3 separate regions of the Homo sapiens genome follow, and regions 2 and 3 are each linked to region 1. Evidence: fine-mapped expression QTL. A gene starts in region 1. Each other region holds a variant in brackets. All regions are shown on one strand. Distances are from middle to middle. Region 1 holds the start of SLC17A9 (solute carrier family 17 member 9). Region 2 has its middle 17 kb from the start of BHLHE23. Region 3 has its middle 5.8 kb from the start of DIDO1.

Region 1 (2,670 bases):
CTCATCCAGCCTTCACTCAGGTGTCCAGGGGTGCCTCCTCAGCCCAACCTATTTGAAGTAACACCCCTTCCCTACCCCTTTCACTACTTTGATTTTTGTCTACCTGCCCCAGAACATCAGCTCCAGGAGGAAGGGGACTTTGGGTAACCAGATGGCAAATGTCTGCTGCAGCATGATCACAGATCTCGGTAGGAAATCACCATCACAGAGTGAATGGAAGCGAATCACCTCAAAGAGGGTGCTGTTGACAGCGATACGTTTAGCAACAGTTTCCAAACTTCCTGGCTATGGGCTAGGGCTGTTTGGGGCAATAAACCTCTCTCTGCCACCATCTTTTCACCTACCCTACGTCAGGATGGATGAAAGTATGACCTTGCTTTTCAGGGTGCCCGTGTCTTTCTGTTCAGAGGGCCCTGGGAGCAGGCCCTGCAGTGCAGTGGGTTGGGCTGTTGGAGACCTGAGGGCTAGGGGGAGGGAGGGGGTAAATGTGGGTCTGTTCTAAGTGCAAGGCCCTGCCTTAGACGTGTCTCCCTCGGCCCCTGGGTGGTGGCTGCTGCGTGGAGGATGGACTGAGGTGGGCCCTAGTGGAGGTGGGGGCAACGCCTGAGGAGCAGGCCCTGCCGCCTCCTGGGGAAAGGCTGCATGGTTGAGGCCTTCCCCTGCTGGCTTCATCCTTGGCATGGCAGCAGGAGCACACAGAGTGGGGGCCCCACCCCGTCACCCCTGCCCCCGAGCCCAGAACCTGGCCTGTGATGGGTCCTCAGGACACCTTTTGTCCAGGAACCCAGGGGCCAATGACAACCTTCACAGGCATCTGCTGAGAAGACATGGGCCAGCGCTGGATTTGTCCAGCTCTCCCAGGCTTGGTCCAAGGGCTCAGGAGTGGACCCATCCCTGCCCCGAAAGATCCATTTTAAAAATCAGTGACCCTGTACTTTTACTCTCTTTGCACTTGGTTAAGACTTTATCCCTGATTTTATTTGATCGGTAAGGCAGGGACTGCCATCATTCCCCATTTTATAGACAGAGGACAGACGGCCCCATGGCTCCGTGTCGTGTCCAAGGGATGGGCTGGCACCTCTTGGACCAGGCTTACCACCAGGGCCCTTCTCTGAAGCCCCAGTCTGACCGGCCTGCTGCTGGGAATCCCCCTCTGCCCCCACACTAACCTCTGCTGGGGCTGAGCCAGGGCGCGTCGGACAGTCAGGGCGACCCAGCCAGGGCGACCGTTGGCCCCGCTCCTATGGGGCAGCAGGGACCGACGTCAGCAGGGTGGGGCGGGCACCCGAGTGGTATGCCCCGCCCTGCCCCGCCTGCCCGCCCTGGTGGCCGTCTGGGGGCGACAAGTCCTGAGAGAACCAGACGGAAGCGCGCTGGGACTGACACGTGGACTTGGGCGGTGCTGCCCGGGTGGGTCAGCCTGGGCTGGGAGGCAGCCCCGGGACACAGCTGTGCCCACGCCGTCTGAGCACCCCAAGCCCGATGCAGCCACCCCCAGACGAGGCCCGCAGGGACATGGCCGGGGACACCCAGTGGTCCAGGTGTGGCGGGGGTGAGGGGAGGGGGGGTGGGAGCGGTGGAGATGGGGCCGTGGGGAGGGAGCTGAGATACTGCCACGTGGGACGATGCTAGGTGGGGAGGGCTGAGCTGGGCGGGCTCCTCTGGCTGTGGGGCCCCCTGTGTTCCTTGTGGGAGGTGGAAGGAAGTGAGTGCCCTGTCCTTCCTCCCTGCCATGAGATTCCAGGACCGGACCTGGCAAGTGCCCTATCCCAGCCAGTGTTCCTGGGGCTCTTCCAGGCAGGGCTATGTTCCCCAGGCCAGGGGCATTGTCCTGGACAGTCAGGAGGCATACCCCTCGCCAGGTGGAACCACCCTGTGTATGCATGACCCTGACAAGCAGGCGCCAGGACAGTCAGGAGGCCAGGTAGGGGGCACGGGCTGGAGCCTGCAGCTGGACGGGGTTGGGGGGGGTCCTGCCACCACGTGCCAGCTGTGTGCTGAGGACGAGCTCCCCGCTGGCTTCAGCTCTCGGAGCATTTGGTGGTGGGGAGAAGCAGGGCCTGGGCAGGTCGCCTGGCCACCAGCACTGCTGCCTGTAGGAGGCTCCCTGGGCAGGTGACGCCTCAGAAACCGGGCGAGATGGTGACCGCGGGCCATTGGTCAGCTGGGGAGGGCCTCTGCCAGGGAGCTCCTGAGAGCAGCCCCCACACTGCTGAACCCCTTGGCTCTGGGTCTTGGGCTGAGGCCTTAAGTGGCTGGACCCTGGGCCTAGACTCAGGCCCTGTGGGTTCCAGAGCAGTCTCCTGCCTGCACTGAGTCCCCAGGGTACCTACCCTGACCATGGCAAGGTAATGGCACCTTCTGGCCCCACCAGTTCCCAGCTGTATGAGGGCTGAGGACCCTAGAAGTGCTGGGAAGAGTTGTAGGAAGGCCCAAAGGGGCAGTGCCACCATCGGATGTTGGCACCCAGATGAAGGGAGCGCTGGCTGCATGGGAAAAGCTGGCAGCCCAGATCACAGCCCTGTCAGGCGCCAATTAGAGGGGAGGGCTGCCCTCAGCGGGCCCTGCCCCTTGCTCTCTTCCTCTTCCCCCACCCACGTTCATCCAGGCCTGCCGGGCAGGGCCAGCTCCCCAGGGATTCAGGGCCTCCTCACTGGCGGCTGGTTTGAG
Region 2 (2,670 bases), 38 kb after region 1:
TTCAGATGAGCCATGGCCAGCCCCTCGACAGCAACCTCCTGGGAAAAACGTCCAGCTAAGCCACACCCCAACTGGAAGTGGGTCCTTCAGATGACCGGAGCCACGGCCAGCACCTCAACAGCAACCTCCTGTGAAAACCACCCAGCTAAGCTGCACCCCAATTCCTGTTCCTCCAATACTGTGGTCAGAGGGGCTCAAAGCAGAATGAGTCCATCTTGAGTAGGGAGTGGGTAAAATGAGGCTCAGACCTGCTGTGCTGCACTCCCAGGGGTGAGGCATTCGGAGTCACAGGATGAGATTGGAGGTCGGCAGGACTGGTATCACAAGATGCAGGTCATAAAGACCCTGCTGGTAAACAGGATGTGGTAGAGATGCCGGCCAAAACGACCAAAACCAAGACGGTGAGAAGAGTGGCCTCTGCTCACCCGCCCTGCTCATTACACACTAATTATAATAGGTTAGCGGCTAAAAGACGCTCCTGCTAGTGCCATGGCAGTTTACAGATGCCACGGCAACATCAGGAAGTTACGCTATATGGTCCAAAAAGGGGAGGAACCCTCAGTTCTGGGAATTGCCCACCCCTTTCCCAGAGAACTCATCAATAATCCACCCCTTGCTTAGCATATAATCAAGAAATACGTGTAAGTGACCTTAGTCAGCAGCCCATGCGGTGGCTCTGCCTATGGAGTCCCCGTTCTTTTGTTCTTTTACTTTCCTAATTTACTTTCACTTTATGGACTCGCCGCAAATTCTTTCTTGCATGAGACCCAAAAACCCTTTCTTGGGGTCTGGATCGGGACCCCTTTCCCTGCTCGTCTTCTCTGCATCAGCCCAGACCCCACACCTGTTTCCTGGCGTGGACATGGAGGACTGAGGCCATCCTCCCAGCCACTGACACACGCCCCTTCTGGGGTGGCCCGGCTGGCATTGCCTTCTCCTAACGTTCCCGGGGTGGCCCGGCTGGCATTGCCTTCTCCTAACGTTCCCGGGGTGGCCCGGCTGGCATTGCCTTCTCCTAACGTTCCCGGGGTGGCCCGGCTGGCATTGCCTTCTCCTAACGTTCCCGGGGTGGCCCGGCTGGCATTGCCTTCTCCTAACGTTCCCGGGGTGGCCCGGCTGGCATTGCCTTCTCCTAACGTTCCCGGGGTGGCCCGGCTGGCATTGCCTTCTCCTAATGTTCCCGGGGTGGCCCGGCTGGCATTGCCTTCTCCTAACGTTCCCGGGGTGGCCCGGCTGGCATTGCCTTCTCCTAACGTTCCCGGGGTGGCCCGGCTGGCATTGCCTTCTCCTAACGTTCCCGGGGTGGCCCGGCTGGCATTGCCTTCTCCTAACGTTCCTGGGGTGGCCCGGCTGGCATTGCCTTCTCCTAACGTTCCTGGGGTGGCCTCCAAGGTGCTTGTGACTTTCAGGAGAGCCCAGCAAGGCCACCCTCCGTGCTCCTTGGTCTGAGCATCCTGAGGTGGAGGGTGCATGACCTTCTGTTCAAGAATGCAAATGCCTGGACCAGGAGAG[C/T]GTCGGTGTGTGCCAGAGAGCCGCCTCCCTGCATACTTTCCACCCCAGGCAGGGGCTGCCTCTATGGGGCCAGCCGGGAGACTTGCCTGCAGCTGCCTTGGGCCCTGAGTTCCGGCTCCTCCGAAAGCAGCAGGAGGCCCTGGGTCTCCTTCACCCGCCACCACCCCATCTGCAAGACGGGAACGAGAGCCTGGCTTCGTGGCTTGCACTGCGGAGTGCTTAGGACCTGACCCACCCAATCTCCACAGCTCTTCACAGCCTGTGAACGTGGTAAAACGCGTGATTAGGTTAAGGGTCCCAGCGGGGAGTGCGCCGGCTTGTGGGCACTTAGTACCTGAGCCCACCCAACCTCCAACAACTCCACAACGGCGGTTCCTGAGCTGGGCTATAGAGCGATCAGTCCCTCACCCACCTCATCTCCAACACCTCCACGGTAGGGGCTCCTGAGCCAGGCTGCTGAGCACTCAGTACCTGATCCACCCAATATCCAACACCTCCACAGTGGGGGCTCCCGTGCCGGGCTGCAGAGGCCCACAGGACCACACAAGGGTCTCTGTGCCCAATTTCTGGGCACCCTGGCTGGCTGACCTGTGGGGTGGGGGCAGCTTTGCTGCCATGCACACTTGATGGAATTTCATACTGACAGCTCGCCCACCCTCTCCTCTCATTCCTCTGGGAGAAAAAAACTTACACGAAAGATGTGAACAGGCCCAAGTGGAAAGGAAAGCCACCACCCCAGGAGGATGCCAAAGGGCGTGGGGGCACACGTCCACGCCGCAGCCCAAGTTTAGGATTTTTCACGGCAGGTGCTGCTTTCATCTTCTGGAACTGCTACCGTGAAGTACCACAAACTGGGCAGCTTAAAACAAGAGAAACTGATCCCCTCATGGTCCCGGAGGCCAGAAGCCCCAAATCAAGGTGTGGGCAGGGCATGAGTCCTCCTAGGGGGATTCTCCTTGCCTCTTTCTGCGTCTGGTGGTGGCCGTCAATCCCAGCTCCCAGCACTGCAAGCTGCTGGCAAAGGCCAGGAAGTCAGAGATGGAACCTGAGCTGCTGCTCAGAGGAGCCGGGCTCAGTCACACACACGATGCAGACAGTTCCCAGATCGACTAAGGAAGCAAGTAGCCAGAAGCACTGTTTGCAACAGGCTGTCATTCT
Region 3 (2,670 bases), 20 kb before region 1:
CCAGGCTGGAGTGCAGTAGTGTGATCTTGGCTGTCTGCAACCTCTGCCTCCCAGGCTCAAGCAACCCTCCTGCCTCACCCTCCCGAGTAGCTGGGACTACAGGTGCATGCCACCACAACTGGCTAGTTTTTGTATTTTTTGTAGAGATGGGGTTTCACTATGTTGCCCAGGCTGGTCTCGAACTCCAGGGATCCACTCGCCTCTGCCTCCCAAAGTGCTGGGATTCCGAAGGCATGAGCCACAGTGCCTGGCCTAAGCTGCAGTATTTCTATATCTTCTGCTAAGGAGTGAACACATTAATACAGAACCATGCTCATCACTCCTTCCTCTGAGAATGTTTCATGTTTCTCTAAGGTGTCTAAGTTTTCTCTTTGAGGTCAGTGAAAAGTAAATAAAAACAACTTTGGAATAAATCAATATTTTAGTTAAGTATAGGGCAAAAAACTATTTCTTTTCTGACTGGTTTTATCTCAACCATCTTTAAAGGAACACAGCAAACAAGCCAAAAAAACGCTTGGACAGATTCTGACAGAATAAGAGTAAAGTGGTTGTACCCAAATAGGACATTTACCCTTACAGGCTCTTCACACCACGGAATAGAGACCCGCGAAAAAGGGGAAACGAACCCATAGACGACTGAATTCCTGCACCTGCTGGCGAGCACCAGGAGGAAGGTGCAGGGATGTCCATGAGGTCAGAGACAGCCATCAGTTCACACTGCATTCCAGACGCAATGGGCCCCGGCCCCATTCTTGGGCCTTCTACCTAACCTCAATGCCTTGGGAGTATGGGACCTTAGGGGTAAGGATAGGGCTACAATTGTGCAGGCTACAATTAAAGATTTTTTTCTTAAATGAAAACACTTTAAGAAGTGAAAGAGACTCCAGCAACCTTCCAGAATTTGTCCAGATATGAATAACTATATAAATTAATTCCTGCTCTTGCTTAGTTCACAAAAACAAAATGGTAAAACTGAGAAAGAGTGTGTTTGGAGGAAATACCAACAACAACAACAAAGACTGAGGTATTAGCAGTTTCCAAAAGACACCCAAATGGGAACTGGAGGTTTTTTCC[C/T]TTCAGGGAGGTCTTGCTTTGTTGACCTGGCTGGTCTCAAACTCCTGGCCTCAAGGGATTCCCCTGTCTCAGCCTCCCCAAAGTGCTGGGATTGTAGGTGTGAGCCACCCTGCCTCTTTCATTCCAATAGGAAAGTATTTAAAGAGTAAATGTAGGGCCAGGCACGGTGGCTCACGCCTGTAATCCTGACACTTTGGGAGGCCCAGGAGAGAGGATCACTTGAGCCCAGGAGTTGAAGGCCAGCCTGGGAAACATAGGAACTCTTATTTCTACTTCTACCTGCCCATCAGACACGTGATCACAACAGCTGCATGCATACAAATAACTTAAGACACAGAGAGAACTATCCACATGTATGTGTGTATATTTACATATATTTTTTGTTAATTTTTATAAAAAAGAAAAGTCAGATCCCAAACCAGTAACTGTCTATCAAATCCTGACCAGCCAGGTTCAAACTACATAATCAAACTCAAATGAAATAGTACATAAACAATGCTTTGACCATGTACATTGCTACTCAAAATACTCTTTGGCCTTTCCCACTGGTCTGCAATGGCAGGACTGTATCACCTTCCCTCCTACCACATTTGTTTCAGGTAACAGTATGCTAGATACGGTTTGTCTCAACCTCAGCAGGAGTTAAAGGTTTTAAAAAAATAAAAATAAAAATCAAGAAAAGATTATTCTTGCTCTCACCCAAACAAACTTACAAAATATTCAGTGCTTTCTGATTTAGTGGTATAATCTAGAAAGGGAAATAAAATCAGGCAAAAAGAGGGAGGGGGAAGGTCACCTATATCAAACAATCACCAGTGAAGATTCTTTACAGGGTCTGGGTTCACCAGACACATGGTGTCAGAATATGTGCAGCAGGCCAGGCGCCATGGCTCATGCCTGTATTCCCAGCATTTTGGGAGGCCCAGGCAGGTGGATCACCTGAGGTCTGGAGTTCGAGACCAGCCTGACCAACATGAAGAAACCCCATCTCTACTAACAATACAAAATTAGCCGGGCGTGGTGGCGCATGTCTGTAATCCCAGTTACTCAGGAGGCTGAGGCAGGAGAATCGCTTAAACCGGTAGGCGGAGGTTGCAGTGAGCCAAGATCGTGCCATTGCACTCCAGCCTGGGCAACAAGAGTGAAATTCTGTCTCAAACAAAAAAACAACAACAAAAGAATATGTGCAGCAGACTAAATAGTAAAATTCTTCCTTACCTCTTTCCAACATCTCTAATTGTTTAAAATACTGTGAAAAGTGAAGTTCATGAAAATTGAGGTCTGAGTGTTTCCTACCTACTTCTGCTAACCATTCTAAGCATCAACAACTGATGGGTTTATCAATTATCCTGAAAAGTAAGGTGGTTTGATTTGCCCAATCTCTTTGAAAGCCTGAAGTCTCCAGTATGTAGGGGTTTGATTTTATGCTTTTGGGTTTTGAGAGTAAAACAAAACATCCATGGGAATAATGTGGTTTTGAAACATGGCTGATATCCTGGTTTTTAAACATTCTATGATTTGAGTAAAGGAAGCACTCTATGCAGTGGTTCACACCTGTAATCCCAGCACTCTGGGAGGCTGAGGCAGGAAGACTGC

Evidence for each region. PIP is the estimated chance that this variant, and not a neighbour inherited with it, causes the effect.
Region 2: its variant is the best candidate, but not a certain one, in a credible set for the expression of SLC17A9 in subcutaneous fat (GTEx, PIP 0.83).
Region 3: its variant is the best candidate, but not a certain one, in a credible set for the expression of SLC17A9 in whole blood (INTERVAL, PIP 0.74).

What each region holds. Positions count from the first base shown.
Region 1 is chr20:62,951,349-62,954,018 of GRCh38, forward strand. It overlaps SLC17A9 (solute carrier family 17 member 9), which reads left to right and starts at 1,361. Exons shown (of 13, transcript NM_022082.4): 1 at 1,361-1,541. The coding sequence starts at 1,483. RefSeq lists an enhancer at 771-1,600 and silencers at 1,152-1,471, 1,482-1,581.
Region 2 is chr20:62,988,880-62,991,549 of GRCh38, forward strand. No RefSeq gene overlaps it. Among named protein-coding and RNA genes, the nearest start is that of BHLHE23, 17 kb to the right of the region's middle. The variant C/T (reference allele first, on the strand shown) is at 1,513.
Region 3 is chr20:62,930,982-62,933,651 of GRCh38, forward strand. It overlaps a transcript of DIDO1 not described here. Among named protein-coding and RNA genes, the nearest start is that of DIDO1, 5.8 kb to the left of the region's middle. The variant C/T (reference allele first, on the strand shown) is at 1,075.